4 linked regions of the Homo sapiens genome follow. The protein of the gene in region 3 interacts with the protein of the main gene of each other region in a biochemical or structural test. Each region holds a gene or a part of one and is shown on either strand. Other genes may lie near its edges. The genes, in order: COPB1, TMED10, COPZ1 and COPA.

Region 1 (4,158 bases), on a different chromosome or scaffold from region 3:
TAACCAAAACAGCATGGTACTGGCATAAAAACAGACATAAAGACCCATGGAAAATAACAGAACCAAGAAACAAATCCATACACCTACAGTGAACTCATTTTGACAAAGGTGCCAAGAACATACATTGGAGAAAAGACAGTCCCTTCAATAAATGGTGCTTGGAAAACTATGTGCAGAAGAATGAAACTTGTCCCCCATCTCTCAACTTACACAAAAATAAAATCAAAATGGATTAAAGGCTTAAATCTAAGACTTTAAACTATGAAACTACTACAAGAAAATATTGGGAAAAATCTCCAGGACGCTGGTCTGGCCAAAAATTTCTTGAATAATACCCCACAGGCACAGGCAACCAAAGCAAAAACGGACAAATGGGATCACATCAAGTTAAAAAGCTTCCGCACAGCAAAGGAAACAATCGACATACGTGATGAGACAACCCACAGAATGGGAGAAAATATGTGCTAACTACCTATCTCACAAGGGATTAATAACCAGATATGTAAGGAGCTCAAACAACTCTACAGGAAAAAAAAAAACTCATAATCTGATTTAAAAATGGGCAAAAGATTTGAACAGACATTTCACAAAGACATACAATTGGCAAACAGGCATATGAAAAGGTGCTCAACATCACTGATCATCAGAGAAATGCATATCAAAACTACAATGAGATATCATCTCACCCCAGTTAAAATGGCTTTTATCCAAAAGACAAGCAAAAACAAATGCTGGAGAGGATGTGGAGAAAAGGGAACCCTCGTACACTGTTGGTGGGAATGTAAACTAGTATACCCACTATGGAGAACAGTTTGGAGGGTCCTCAAAAAACTAAAAACAGGGGTACCATACGATTCAGCAATCCGACTACTGGGTATATATCCAAAAGAAAGGAAATGAGTACATCAAAGAGATATCTGGACTCCTATGTTTGTTGCAGCACTGTTTACAACAGTCAAAACTTGAAAGCAACCTAAGTGTCCACCAACAGATAAATGTATAAAGAAAATGTGGTACATATACACAATGGAGTACTATTCAGCCATAAAAAAAGAATGAGATCTTGTCATTTGCAAAAATATGGATGGAACTGGAGGTCATTATGTTACATGAAATAAGTCAGGCATAGAAAGACAAACTTCACATGTTCTCACTTATTTGTGGAAGCTAAAAATCAAAACAAACTCACGGAGACAGAGTAAAAGGATGGTTATCAGAGGTGGGAAGGGTAGTGGTAGGGAAGTGGAGATGGTTAATGGGTACAGAAAAAATGAGTTAGACCCGATATTTGATAGCACACAGGGTAACTACAGTCAATAATAATTTAATTGGACATTTAAAAATAACTGAAAGTGTAACTGGATTGTCACACAGAAGACAAATGCTTGAAGGGATGGATACTCCATTTTTCCATGTGATAATTATGTATTGCATGCCTGTATCAAAGCATTTCATGTACCCCATAAATATATACATCTACTGTGTACCCCCAAAAATTAAACATTACAAAAAGTTCAGAAATATAGTTGTTTTCTTATTTGCAAAAATGCATAAAAAATGAAAAGGTAAACTTTTCTGGAAAATACATGTTTATTCCAGTGTTCACCTAATTGTTTGGGTGGGTAATCCAAAGAACAAAGTTCTTTTGGTTTTACAAGCTAAGTAACATGAAGTTAAGTGCACGATGGAATTAAGATATTCCAATACACATCCTCAACCTGTTGCCTAGAGAAAATAATCAGCCACATTAATATATTGAAGTCTACAAAAATTATGACATTTTGAGGAATATCTAAACTATTACAATTTCTTTAGGTTTACTAAGATAAACTGAGATGTTCTATTTCAAACAACCAATATTTAAAGAAGTTCGCATTTTTAATAAAAGGTCTATCGAAGAGATCCTAGAAAAACTTTAGACAAAAATTAAGCATTTCTAATTATAAAGGAATATGAAATATGAGTTTTTTATTTTTGTTTTTTCTTTTTTCATTTCATTCTCAAAATAATATCGAAGTTTACCTAGATCATTTTTTAAGCTAATTTCAGATGGTGGTTCTGAATCCATTGGCACGTTAATTAACGTGTAGCATACGTTCTCAGCCGCCGTCATGGTTTCTGGTTATATTATAACCAATCCTTGACACAAGATTTAAGGATGCCAGAAAATCTAGAAAAATAAACACAGACATATCATTACAAATTAAAAAAAAAAAACCCACAAACAAGTACCTATAGTGACCTTTTAAAGTATTAGAAAGGGCAGGTCAATCTATATCGTGTTCCCATAAAAATAAATTCTAGTAAAAACCACATTATCAGCTCTGGCATAAGGTATATTATCTATCACTCCCTCATCGCATCCCGGTCCAGTGTTTGAGAATGCTGTATAGCCGAATGAAGGCCCACAGAACAGTGACAGTCCCCCCAGCCACACCCCACAATGTTATGGACCGTATGGTTTTTACACAACACACAATCTGCATGCTCAAGTTAAGAGACCTTGTGCCTGAATACTCTGCCAAAACCCTAAAGCGCTTTATCGCGGTCCTTGGTGGGTTCCGACTCTATGTCCGCGGGTCCCTTAATCAACGCGCTGCACCCCCACCTCGCCCCACCCGCTTCCTCCTCCCCTTCCTCCAGCAAAGCAGCCCTAGGCCTGAAAGGGTACGCCTAGGGGTCTTGGGAGGGAAAAGACCCCCGGCCAATACAAAGGACGGGATGGAGCGTCCGACCCGGAGCTTCCTAGCCCTCCGCCCCCACCCCGACCCGCACCCCCACCCGTACCCCCACCCGGTCCCTTCTGCCAGGCCCAGACGCAAGCGGCCTAGTCGCTCCCCTTCCGCATCTTCCAGCTAGAAAGCCAGTTCTTCCGACTCTGCCCGACCCACCACGCCTCTGGGACTGGGGGCTTGTGGCCCACTACCAGGCTCCGAGGGGCAGTGGTTTGGTGCAGCCGCGGATCCGTCTACTGCGGCTCCGTCTACTCCGGCTATGAACCGCAGCAGCGGCGGCGGCGGCTCCAGAGTCCTTGGCTGACGTGGAAGGGGGTGGGGTAACGACCGAAGCCACAGCCACCTAGCACCTACGGCGACTCAGAGAGGACATGCTTTCTTTGTGCAGCGCTTGCGCGCTGCAAGTATATCCTATTTTCTTCCTCTTCTCTTGTCCAGGGTTTGATTAGGCCGCAGAGCAATGAAACCACGTATTTTCTAGTTTTCCCTGCAAGCCAAGCTCTGAGTTAAGCACTATGCTAATTTAAACGCTAACTGGAAATCGTTCCTTCTTCAGGAACAGTCAAGGGGAGAAAGTGCTTGGAGAGAGGGAAACTTTTACAGGGCTCTGTTCCCGTGAAAAAGAGCTCTGGACTAGAAAGTGGAAACCCAGTAATCCTTTTTCTTGTCCACACCCTAATAAACTGGGAAAGTAACTAATACTATTGGGAAGGTAATTCAGTTATTTTATTAATTATCACTAGATTAAAATCCATTTCAGTTCTTAACATCGCTAGTAGTTTGAATCTGCCTCTCTGCAGGTAGGGCTGGAGTTATTTGAAAATCCAAAGTCACATTGGTATAATTTCTGCTTTTTATTTAATAATGGCCTCTTTCCGTGATCCTTTCTGAGCACCCAGTAGATTAGAAAAAATTTTTATGCATAAAGGGAGACAGTCACTGTTTTAAAGGATTTTACGTATCTCCAAAGACCTGTTACAGCTGCAATCAGCCATAGTACTTTCGGTTTTGCCCATTTGAAGTTCCATAGCACGCCCCGCCCCTACACCTCCCTCTGCCCACAAAAGGGTTTTATGGCCAATTATTAATAACAAAATATCTTAAAGCTTAAGCAAAATACTGCGAATAAAAACAGATCTGACGGCAACTGCCCTAGTTAACAGGTTCATCTCAGGAAGATGGAACACCAATAGTACCTCATTTATGTAGGATCTAGCTCTTTTGAGCTTTCTCTTTTTAGAACCATCAAGCAATCTACAAATTCTTTGAGCACCCAAAATTGTATTCAAAGGCCATGTGTTGACAGCACTTTAAGAGTGCCTCTCTGATTCTGTGCATTCATTTTTTTTAATATTTAATCTTAATGGTAGAGTGACATGAATACAGAGATCCCATATACTCTTTACCTAGTTTCTCCCAATGG
Region 2 (3,725 bases), on a different chromosome or scaffold from region 3:
TGGGTTACCTTTATATATTTGTTCCACTTTCCTAGAAACCAGACTCAGTCTTCAGAAGTCAGCATAAAGATATGGTGTAGCAATTTCAAACTGGAAGCAGCCCCCTTCTCTAGATCAGTTCAAAACAGGGAAGGCTGTAGACAACTGTTTACTGAATAAGAGAGATTTAAATGAAGCAATGTATCCTTTAACTTTTATGGAGAAGGACGCAAAGGTCAAGTTATAATTAAAAGCTAGGAACTTTGTATATAATACAAAAAGAAATTCGATTTATATTATTAAATGTCAATGTACCAATTAGCCTTCTGTACTGAACCATCTATTTATTGACCTGTTTCTAACCCAGTGAACAACAGTCACGTTAAATTCACGCTGAAAGGGCCATATTTCTCCCTACAGAAAAAGTCTGGCATAAGTAAGGGTTCATGGGATCGTTATTGATAAAAAGGATGGTTCATTTCGATGACTGAGCAACATGCATCCTATTCCTTTTTTTTTTTTTTTTTTTTGAGACGGAGTCTCACTCTGTCGCCCAGGCTGGAGTGCAGTGGCGTGATCTCGGCTCACTGCAACCTCCACTTCCCAGGTTCAAGCGATTCTCCTGCCTCAGCCTCCTGAGTAGCTGGGACCACAGGTGCACACTACCACGCCTGGCTAATTTTTGTATTTTCAGTAGAGACAGGGTTTCACCATGTTGGCCAGGATGGTCTCATTCTCCTGACCTCGTGATCCACCCACCTCAGCTTCCCAAAGTGCTGGGATTACAGGCGTGAGCCACCACGCCCAGCCGAAGCATCCTATTCTTTCTCCTTGTCAGCACAGAACAGACCTCAGTACAGATACCAGTAATAAAAAAGCTGAAATACAGTAATTCCAAACAAAATAATCTGAAAACTATAGCATATATACCATCTTTTCCTTCCTTCCTCCCTCCCCTGCCTCTTCGCCCCTCTGCCTCTCTCTCTTTTCTCCTCCTCGCCCCCACCCCCACCACTGTCCTTTTCTCCTTCCTCCTCCCTCTCCTCTCTGTCCTCATGCCTGGCCTATAGTATCTTCTCATACAGCTTTGGGTGAGGGAAAAAAGAAGTTATAAGCCAATAGTTTCCCAACTGCCAAGTTACTTCTTCATAATTTTTAGGCTTAAGTTGTGGTAGGCCTGTGATTCAAGGCTGAACTCTTTAAGGGATCTGTTTGGCTTTCTTATCTATAAGCTAGTTGGGAAGGACAGAAATCATAACTTGGTATAAGATCCAAATTTTCAGCCAGGTGCAGGGGTTCATGCCTGTAATCTCAGTGCTGTGGGAGGATCACTTGAGGCCAGGAGTTCGAGGTTGCAGCGAGCTATGATCATGCCACTGCACTCCAGCCAGAGCAAAATAATAATAAAAATATTACCCAAATTTCTGAGTCCCTACAACAGGCTTTTATTATGGACCTGAAGTAATGGAGGAAACTTCTATATTCACTGTAAATGACGAGTTGATACTTCCTGCTTCAATTATGTGCAGCAAAGTCTTTATACCTGACACTAGTTAGCCTGATTTAGCCTCACTTTATGAAATGAGTAGGGAAGTATGGAATAGACTCAGTTTGGAGATCTTAACACAAAATGCATCTCAATATAGGTCTGAAATAGAAATCTTTGCAGGAGAGGACCACCCATCATTTCAATCCATTTATCTCTCTCTGCTTCAGAAAGGCCTCCCCTGACCACTCAAACACCCTTTAACCCATCAGTCACCCCCTACTCCCTAGTGCCTGAACTTTCATTATAGTGCTTATCACTACCTGAAATTCTATTATTTTAACTTGTTTTTTGTCTTTGTTCCCCACAAGAGCTTGAGGACCTTGTCCCGTTTATCCCCATATTCTCAGCCAGGTCTGACACATACTAAATATTACATAAATATTTGTTGAATGAATGAAAGAATCACAAACTACTCATAATTCCTCTCATTAAAATACTCCATATCTACTTATTTCAATGACATATAGCATGAGGGGCTCTGAGAAGCAATTCAATTTTCATTCAATACAGAGGAAAGAAAAGAGTACTAACATCTATGGAGCACCATAATGGGCCCTGCACAATAAAAACCTCACCCATCTCAATCAGTCCTTCTAACAAGTTTATGAGCTCTACGATTCCCATATTACAGAAACAGGACCAGAGAAGAAGGGTTAAGTAATCCCTGCAAGACCCACATAACCTTTAAATGGTGGAGCTGCTGGGATCTGAACCAAATCTATCTTACTTCAGATCTAGTCTCTACCATACCACAAGGCTTCTCAAGAAGACTAAGATGTTTAACTCAGTTATACAACAATGTGTACGTTAAACTAAAGACACAAAGATGAGTAAGACATTAAAGAGTTCACAAAGTAAACACTACACTACATGAAAAGTGCCATGTAAAACAGGATGTAATGGTACTACAGTATCTTTTCATACAACTTTTGGTGAGGGGGAAAAAAGAAGTTATAAGCCAATGGGACACATAGGGGACACAGAAAGTCAAACATTGATCCAGGTAAAGAGAACATTATATTCAAAGAACTGTAAGGTGTTCAGTATAGCTAGAGTCAGAGTGGGAGGAAGCAAATAAAGAGAATGGAAGAGGGAAAGATCAGAGATGAGGCAAAGACAGTGCTTGCTCGTCTGTTCACTAATTCCTTAGGATAAGGTCCTACTATGTGCCAGGCCTTATTTTAGACAAGCATTGCAATGATGAATGAAACCTAGTCTCTGTTCAAGCAGCTTATAGTTTATCCCAGGAGATGGGCAAATACACAACTGCAACACAGAGTGGTATATGATAACATAGGTGCATTCACTGGATACTGAGATGTTCCTAGACAGAAAGAAGGTGAATCAGTCAGATTAACCAAGGCACTATATTCACAGAGACCCTTATAAGAAAGACTGCCTCAGGCTAGGCACAGTGGCTCACGCCTGTAATCCCAGCACTTTGGGAGACGGGCGGATCACCTGAGGTCAGGAGTTTGAGACCAACCTGGACAATATTGTGAAACCCCGTCTCTACTAAAAATACAAAAATTAGCCGGGAGTAGTGGTACGCGCCTATAATCCCAGCTACTTGGGAGGCTGAGGCAGGAGAATTGCTTGAACCTGGGAGGCAGAGGTTGCAGTGAGCCGAGATCATGCCATTGCACTCCAGCCTGGGCAAAAAGAGCGCAACTCCATCTCAAAAAAAAGACTGCCTCATTCAGCACAACCACCAAATGCTAAGCTCAGCTGGCCAGGTTCTGCACCAGTCTCCAGTTCTCCTCCTACCTCAAATCAAACCACAGCTGCCTAAAGCAGGGGTGGAAATATGACCAAAGACAAGACAATCCATTGGCTGAACTGAGACCTAGAATGTGGCCTACCATATGAAAAGGAGCTCTGGCACTTAGGAGTTGCACTCCAGAAGCTAAAATGATGCATAGGGAGAATCCTTGAAGCAGTCGTCAAAATATAAGAAAAAGTGGAACGGCCGGGCGTGGTGGCTCATGCCTGTAATCCCAGCACTTTGGGAGGCAGAGGCGGGCGGATCATGAGGTCAGGGGATTGAGACCATCCTGGCTAACACGGTGAAATACAAAAAATACAAAAAATACAAAAAATTAGCCGGGCGTGGTGGCGGGCGCCTGTAGTCCCAGCTACTTGGGAGGCTGAGGCAGGAGAATGGTGTGAACCCCGGGGAGCAGAGCCTGCAGTGAGC
Region 3 (3,725 bases):
GGGATTGGCAAAGGCTCCAGGGAGTTGATTTAGTTTTAGAAGTTGGGTTTTGCCGGGCTCAGTGGCTCACGTTCGTAATCCCAGTACTTTGGGAGGCCAAGGCGGGCGGATCATGAGGTCAGGAGATTGAGACCATCCTGGTTAACATGGGGAAACCCTGTCTCCACTAAAAATACAAAAAATTAGCCGGGCATGGTAGCGGGCGCCTGTAGTCCCAGGTGCTTGGGAGGCTGAGGCAGGCGAATGGCATGAACCTGGGAGGCGGAGCTTGCAGTGAGCCGAGATCGCGCCACTGCACTCCAGCCTTGGCGACAGAGTGAGACTCTGTCTCAAAAAAAAAAAAAAAAGTTGGGTTTATTAATTCACAGTAATTCATGCTACTGGGGAGGACTGGATGGAGAGTATGTCCCTCCCATAGAATAATTCTCTTACTAAGTAAGGGGACTGGGAGGGAGCCGAATCTTTACCTCTGTGTTTACTCTTGTAATCCCCTGTGGTCCTGTCAGATCTGAGCATCCTCAAGGTGCTTTCCTGGGCTTCATTCTTGACATTAGAAGTAGGGAAAGGCCAAGCATAAGGAAGTGTCCCAGATGAAATGTCATTCAGTACTTCAGGAATGGAAGCAACACTCCCAATTTTTTTTTCTTTTTTTTTTTTTTTGAGATGGAGTCTCACTCTGTCACCCAGGCTGGAGTGCAGTGGCGTGATCTCGGCTCACTGCAACCTCTGCCTCCCAGGTTCAAGCGATTCTCCTGCCTCAGCCTCCCGAGTAGAGTAGCTGCAATTATAGGCACGTGCCACCACGCCTGGCTAATTTTTGTATTTTTAGTGGAGACAGGGTTTTACCATGTTGGCCAGGCTGGTCTTGAACTCCTGACCTCAAATGATCCACCTACCTTGGCCTCCCAAAGTGCTGGGATTATAGGCATGAGCCACTTAGACCAGTTTTTTTTTGACTTCTAGTCCTTGTTTTTTCCCTTCTGTAGAACAGGAAGCACCCAGGCAGGAGGACTGCATGAGTCGAGTTCAAGACAAGCTTGGGCAACACAGTGAGACCCTGTCTCTGCAAAAAATAAAAAAATTAGCCAGGTGTGGTGGTGCATACCTGTAGTCTCAGCTACTTGGGAGGCTGAGGTAGGAAGATTGCTTGAGCCCAGGAGGTTGAGGCTGCAGTGAGCTGTGATCATGCTACTGCACTCCAGCCTAGGTGACATAGCAAGACCCTGTCTCAAAAAACAAAACAAAACAAAAAACAGGAAGCTTCTGCCATTTACCCTCTCCTCCCTTTCCACCTTCCCACTAGCCCTCTGTTCTCTGTTACCCGTGTAGATGGGTAATAGAAGAGATATAAGTTACTTTTCCTGAAAACATCCAGGGCTCTGAACTTCATTCCCCCAGCAGCTCCCAAGTGAACCCAGTACAGACAGCCATCCAGACCAGAACAGCAGGCACTCTCAGCCCTGCAAAATCAGCAGGGTGAATGGCTCAGATTTCCTCAGGAAGGGGATGATTTATTTCTTATCCAGGTGAATGAATAGTAATTCATTCGGGTAATCTAGTGAAAGACTCAAACTGACAGATGTGACAGGCCACATGCACCAACCAACGGATCTGAGGCTGGTGTATGCAGACCCTGCCCCCTCTTTGGGCTTCTTTTCAGGGCCTGAGCAGAGCTGGTAAGGGATAGGGAGAAGAGGGAACAGAGAATGTCTCAGGAGGTTTGTCAGAGCTTGAGTACAAATAAGGTTTGCATTGAACCCCTCTCACCTCCGGCCACCTCCAGACTGAGTCTTAGCTCTGTTTATATTGTTTTTTTCCACCCACTGATGTCAGTGTTTATGAGCAATGTTATGAGCAGCATCATGGCAGGTAGGAAAGAAATAATAGCGTGGATAATCAACCCCTGAATAGTCAGAAATTGACTGTGTTATTTGAATCTCTTTCCATACATTCCTTATTCAGCAAACGAGTAGAAAGGGGTTTTGAGTGAACTAGCTAAAAAGTTCTTCACCTTATTTACTTCTTTGTGTGGTTGGTGGAGATGTTTATTGGTCTAGTTTAGGTTCCTCAATTGAGACAAGGTCCTAGGATTTCTTTCACATACAAGTTGGTTATTCTCTTCTCTTCTCTTGGGGACTCAGGAAAAATGTAGAAAAGCGAGCACTGCTGGAGAACATGGAGGGGCTGTTCTTGGCTGTGGATGAAATTGTAGATGGAGGGTAAGTTCTCTGACCTGCCTTGATCTTGGGTGAGGTGGCGGGATAACTGCCCCTGTCCTAAGTCAAGCAGGCTCAGTGGCCAGAGGTCCTGTTCCCCGACAGTGAGTTGGGCCTTCGGGACAGAGTGAACAATGATCTCTTCTTTGTTTTTGCAGGGTGATCCTAGAGAGTGATCCCCAGCAGGTGGTACACCGGGTGGCATTAAGGGTAAGCAAGAATGTGTTTCTTTGCATCCCCGCATCTATTCACAAACACCCTCCAGAGCCAGACCTGCTGGATGTGTCCAGTAGTTGGGGCTCATAGGATACATACAACCTTCTCTTTTTCTTTCAAATACATTCAGCCTTTCTCTTCCCTTCTCTTCTTATTGTCCCAAAGAAAGAAGCAGAAATAACTTATTTCTACCCCTAATATGGTGCCTAACATCTCATACAGTCTTTGCACAAAGTGGACATTTAATACATACTTATTTAATAAATGATAAAATAAACTTTAATATTTATGGTTTTGAAATTATAAAGCAACTTGAAGTTGGCTTATTCCCTTCTTGGAGATGGATCCAGTCATCTGAGGCAGAGGAGTGTCTGTTTTGTCTTTTAAAGTGTTACATAGGACTGAGCGTGGTGGCTCACACCTGTAATCCCAGCACTTTGGGAAGCCGAGGCTGGCGGATCACAAGGTCAGGAGTTCGAGACCAGCCTGACCAACATGGTGAAACCCTGTCTCTACTAAAGACACAAAAATTAGCTGGGCATGGTGGTGCGTGCCTGTGATCCCAGCTACTCAGGAGGCTAAGGCAGGAGAATTGCTTGAGCCCGGGAGGTGGAGGTTGCAGTGAGCCGAGATTGCACCACTGCACTCCAGCCTGGGCGACAGAGTGAGACTCTGTCTCAAAAAAAATAAATAAATAAAATAATAATAATAAAGTGTTACATAACTGAGGATGGTACCTCTCCATTAGGAAGTACTTATTTGCCAGAACCTCAGTCCTCTTTGGTGCTGGTGATATCAGAAAGGGGCCTCTGAGTTAACCATAGAAGGCCCCAGGTCAGCTGAGGAGATAATGGTGGATGCAGAGAGAGCCCACCAACAAATTATACGGGTGCAAAGATGTCTGAGCAAAGCAAATCTCCCCATTCACAGAATGTCCTGGCTCTGACCTCCACAGAGTGAAGGCTGACAGTGCTTGGTAATGGGAAATCTCTCTTAACTGCTGTGGGCTCCATTTGCATAGTTTAATCTTCTCCTCTAACATATGTCTCTGTGTGGCAAGAGAGAGGGTCCCCCCCATCAACTCCCCGCTTTGTCTTCTTAGGCTGCTGTTGCAGCAGTTTATTTCTTCAAATTAACATGCTGTCGTTACCCATCAGGCTTTGCGGGATCCATTAAACCACTCCTGGCTCCCCCTCATCCTTTCCCTAGTGATACTGATATTCAGAAAAGGCCTTTTCTGACTAGGGAATCAGGTCCTCCACCCCCACGTTAAGGGAGTTGAGGATCAGATAA
Region 4 (3,725 bases), on a different chromosome or scaffold from region 3:
CAGCTTATTTTTGTATTTTTAGTAGAGACGGGGTTTCACCATCTTGGCCAGGCTGGTCTCGAACTTCTAACCTCAGGTGATTTGCCTGCCTTGGCCTCCCAAAGTGCTGGGATTACAGGCATGAGCCATGGCGCCGGGCCAAGGCCATCACTTTAAATGGTCCCTAACTCTTCATGGAAAGTTCTATGTAAAGCTCCAGCTCCAAACACAAAATAAGACAAAGGTCTAGACCTTGACTCAGGTTTTATGGGAAAATAATTGAAAACCAGCTAAAAGTTCTTGTTCTAAAAGGCTATATGACTTCTCTTCCTGGTAAGAAATTATTGGAAGTCCAGATTCATATATGGGATTGCCTCTACATTTATTATTTTGCACTTAAAAGCATCCTACAAATACAATCAGTAATTAATCAGCCGACATAGTCCATTTGAGAAGGGAGAAGATTGTTCTAAGAGAAGCTCATTATGAAAAACTAGGAAAAATGAAGACTCTTTTCGAGCCCTCTGCCTCCTGCTTTACCAAACACAGGTTCTAGATTGCCAGTTCCACACTCGGATGGTCTGATCATCGGAGGCACTCAGAATCCAGGGATATTCCTGAAAGATATTCCAGACAAAGGCTTTAAACATTAAACAAATCTGTTCTATCAGGTTCTTGTAATCATTTTTCTCTAAAGAACTGCATTGCTTAACGGCTCAGCTACATTAGCAAAGGGGCTGCTGCTTTTGCTATCAGGTTAGCTGTCTCCTTTTCTCTACCACTCTAACAGCTTTTCTCAACTTCGGCACTTTCACCTATAAGACTTAAGAATGGAAGCCAGTTAGAGGCACAATACATTCTCAGAGGCAGATAGTGAAACATACATTTACATTTACTTCTATATGTGTGTGTGTGTGTGTGTGTATTTATATACAGTTAATCATGTAAATTAAGATCCTGTGAAAGACTCTTCTACCTTTAACTCTAGGATGGGAATATTATTTTATTGTCTGACTTCTTTCTGTCCAGTTTCAAAAAATTCCCAGGTCTCAGCAAGCAAAGCAGAAAGTAACATGTAAAGACAATTTAGCCTTTTTGGAGTCTATAAGATTGTTGAGAAAAGGAAGTATTTCTTATTTACACTTCCTTCTTACTACACTTGCTAAGCTTTGTGTTAAACACTGAAAATAGATGGTATTTCTATTTTCAATAGAGATAGTATCTCTACCTTCAGTATTTAGCACAAAGCTTAGCAAGTATAAGGCACACACATATTTAGTGAGCTGGTAAAATGAAAGAAAATAAGGTCTTTCGTAACTTTCCAGGTAGATGGCAACTTGTTCTAGGCAAGGGTCTTCAGGAAGTCCTTTATGGCAATGACAAATAATTCCTACTTAATAAGTTATCTTATTGAGTGGTTATCATTCTCAAATGTTTAAGCTGTAATTTTCTCATTCTCTCCTATCCTAGAATTTTTTAATTAAAAAAAGAAATAATATATACTCAACCAGTAAATTGTTTATTTCATCATATTCTTTCTAACTTAATTAAAGAGACTTAATTTACTGGCAATCAAAGAATAGTGTAAGTTAATGCTAATACACAGAACTATAAGGAGATCCTGTCAGGGTGCAACTGGATTCAGAGGTTGGGAGTCTGTAATCTGCACCTCACTATCTAAATCTACTATGTTACCTGGCAGATCAAAGAAAGTAGTAAGCCTGGCTAAGGGAACAGCCTCCACCAGACCCAAAAATCCTAGGATAGAGGGGTATGATTGTTAATACTTCGAAACGTTTGTTAGCTGATCAAAATGGCATCTTAGTCTGACCTTCTTCCAGACACACCTACTACTTACTAATAATACCCTACATGGGATTAGCTGGCAAACTTTTGTTTTTTGGTTCAGCAAATCTGAAATCAAATCCCTACTTTTCCCTACAGAGAAACAATGACTTCCCATAGAATCCACTGAATCCAATAAAATTAAATTCAGTATAATCCCAAGTGCTTCCTTTTGCAGAAAGAAAAAAAGCAGAAAGGACAATACCACACAGATTGTAGAAGAGCCACTCCAAAAACAACTCTATTATTAAAACATGGGTTCTCAAGGATCAAATAAAGATTACTATGGGGAAACTAAGAATGCTCCAAAACTAGCGCCACCATGACTACTTACATGATGAAAAAACGTGGTGCGAATATAATCTAAGTGCCCAAGCAATGTGAAAAGACAGCGCCGAAGCTTGTAATTCCAAACCTGCAAAGACAAATCAAACTAAGAAACAGAAATAGTTATTGAGCCTCTAAAAGGCTCAGAGAAATTGATATCTTTACAGAGATAGAAATATGTATATAAATATAGATTTATATACATTATTTGTATTTTGGCATTTCTAAATAGGTAGGAACCTTGGTAGAAAGCCTTGTTTAAGATTTGAGGGGAAAAGAACAAGAATGAAAATATAGGTCAGATAAACAACATGGGGTTGGGGTAGGATTAGGGAAAAGCTAAAGATAAAATTATTGAAGTTTTTCAGGCTGGGCGTGGTCACTCATGCCTGTAATCCCAGCACTTTGGGAGGTCGAGGCGGGTGGATCACAAGGTCAGGAGATCGAGACCATCCTGGCTAACATAGTGAAACCCTGTCTCTACTAAAAATACAAAAAATTAGCCAGGCGTGGTGGCATGTGCCTGTAGTCCCAGCTACTCGGGAGGCTGAGGCAGGAGAATCGCTTGAACTCAGGATACAAGAGGTTGCAGTGAGCCGAAATCATGCCATTGTACTCCAGCCTGGGTAACAGAGCGAGACTCAGTCTCAAAAAAAAAAAAAAAAAAAAAAAGTTTTTCTTTCTTTGGGAAGAAGCCATCTGCATTTAATAGCAGGAGATATTTATCCAGGGCTTGATTTGCAACTCTTTTTTCTACTGCAAAATTGTGCTCTTGGCTTGAATATAGACCCCTTAAGTGCTTTACCCATCACTTTTAAAAAGTATGACAGGCTGGGCACGATGGCTCATACCTGTAATCCCAGCACTTTGGGAGGTCAAGGCAGGGGGATCACCTGAGGTCAGGAGTTTGGGACCGGCCTGGCCAACATGGGGAAACCCTGTCTCTACAAAAATACAAAAAAAAATTAGCCGGATGTGATCCCAGCTACTTGGGAGGCTGCGGCAGCAGGATCACTTGAACCTGGGAGGCGGCGTTTGCAGTGAGTTGAGATCGCTCCACTGCACTCCAGCCTGGGCGACAGAGAGAGGCTCGGTCTCAAAAAAAAAAAAAAAAGTAGGACAGATAGATACCATGACTCCAAGGGAAACAATAATATAGGGCATCAGCTTCTTAGGCTCCTAACTTGATGGCAAACAACGCCCATACATGTGTGGTCTGTACTCACCTGTCAAGCAAACAGACCTTAACTTATTACATGGAAAATACTACATTGCTCAGTAAGCCTGAGCTAAGCAGAGAAACAATATCATATTCAGATGTGAAGTTGAGTCAACTACCAAAGTACTAGGCATCAATGAACACAACTGAAGACATGAAAACCAGGATCATAAATATAAAATAGCTTATCTTCCTCATTCAGAAAATCCCCTAAAATGTACAAAAATAAGAGACCAGATGCATTTTTCTTCTTATTTAATTTTTTTAAATTTCTTTTTAATATTTGTTTATAATCAATCTGGGCCAGCTTGTTACTATTTCTAATTTTTAACTTTTCTTCAGTAAATTATAAAAA

Evidence for each region.
Region 1: the proteins of COPZ1 (region 3) and COPB1 form a complex in vitro, tested with the Homo sapiens proteins (one study listed by BioGRID).
Region 2: the proteins of COPZ1 (region 3) and TMED10 form a complex in vitro, tested with the Homo sapiens proteins (2 studies listed by BioGRID, with this or other methods).
Region 4: the proteins of COPZ1 (region 3) and COPA form a complex in vitro, tested with the Homo sapiens proteins (one study listed by BioGRID).

Annotation. Positions count from the first base shown.
Region 1 is NC_000011.10:14,496,816-14,500,973, forward strand, and holds the start of COPB1 (coatomer subunit beta), read right to left. Parts: upstream 2,997-4,158; 5' UTR 2,892-2,996; exon of another isoform or gene 2,794-2,891; intron 2,171-2,793; 5' UTR 2,114-2,170; coding exon 2,023-2,113; intron 1-2,022. UniProt on the Homo sapiens protein: The coatomer is a cytosolic protein complex that binds to dilysine motifs and reversibly associates with Golgi non-clathrin-coated vesicles, which further mediate biosynthetic protein transport from the ER, via the Golgi up to the trans Golgi network.
Region 2 is NC_000014.9:75,166,451-75,170,175, forward strand, and holds part of TMED10 (transmembrane emp24 domain-containing protein 10 precursor), read right to left. Parts: intron 1-3,725. UniProt on the Homo sapiens protein: Cargo receptor involved in protein vesicular trafficking and quality control in the endoplasmic reticulum (ER) and Golgi.
Region 3 is NC_000012.12:54,345,626-54,349,350, forward strand, and holds part of COPZ1 (coatomer subunit zeta-1), read left to right. Parts: intron 1-2,141; coding exon 2,142-2,219; intron 2,220-2,374; coding exon 2,375-2,426; intron 2,427-3,725. UniProt on the Homo sapiens protein: The coatomer is a cytosolic protein complex that binds to dilysine motifs and reversibly associates with Golgi non-clathrin-coated vesicles, which further mediate biosynthetic protein transport from the ER, via the Golgi up to the trans Golgi network.
Region 4 is NC_000001.11:160,333,084-160,336,808, forward strand, and holds part of COPA (coatomer subunit alpha), read right to left. Parts: intron 2,240-3,725; coding exon 2,159-2,239; intron 597-2,158; coding exon 520-596; intron 1-519. UniProt on the Homo sapiens protein: The coatomer is a cytosolic protein complex that binds to dilysine motifs and reversibly associates with Golgi non-clathrin-coated vesicles, which further mediate biosynthetic protein transport from the ER, via the Golgi up to the trans Golgi network.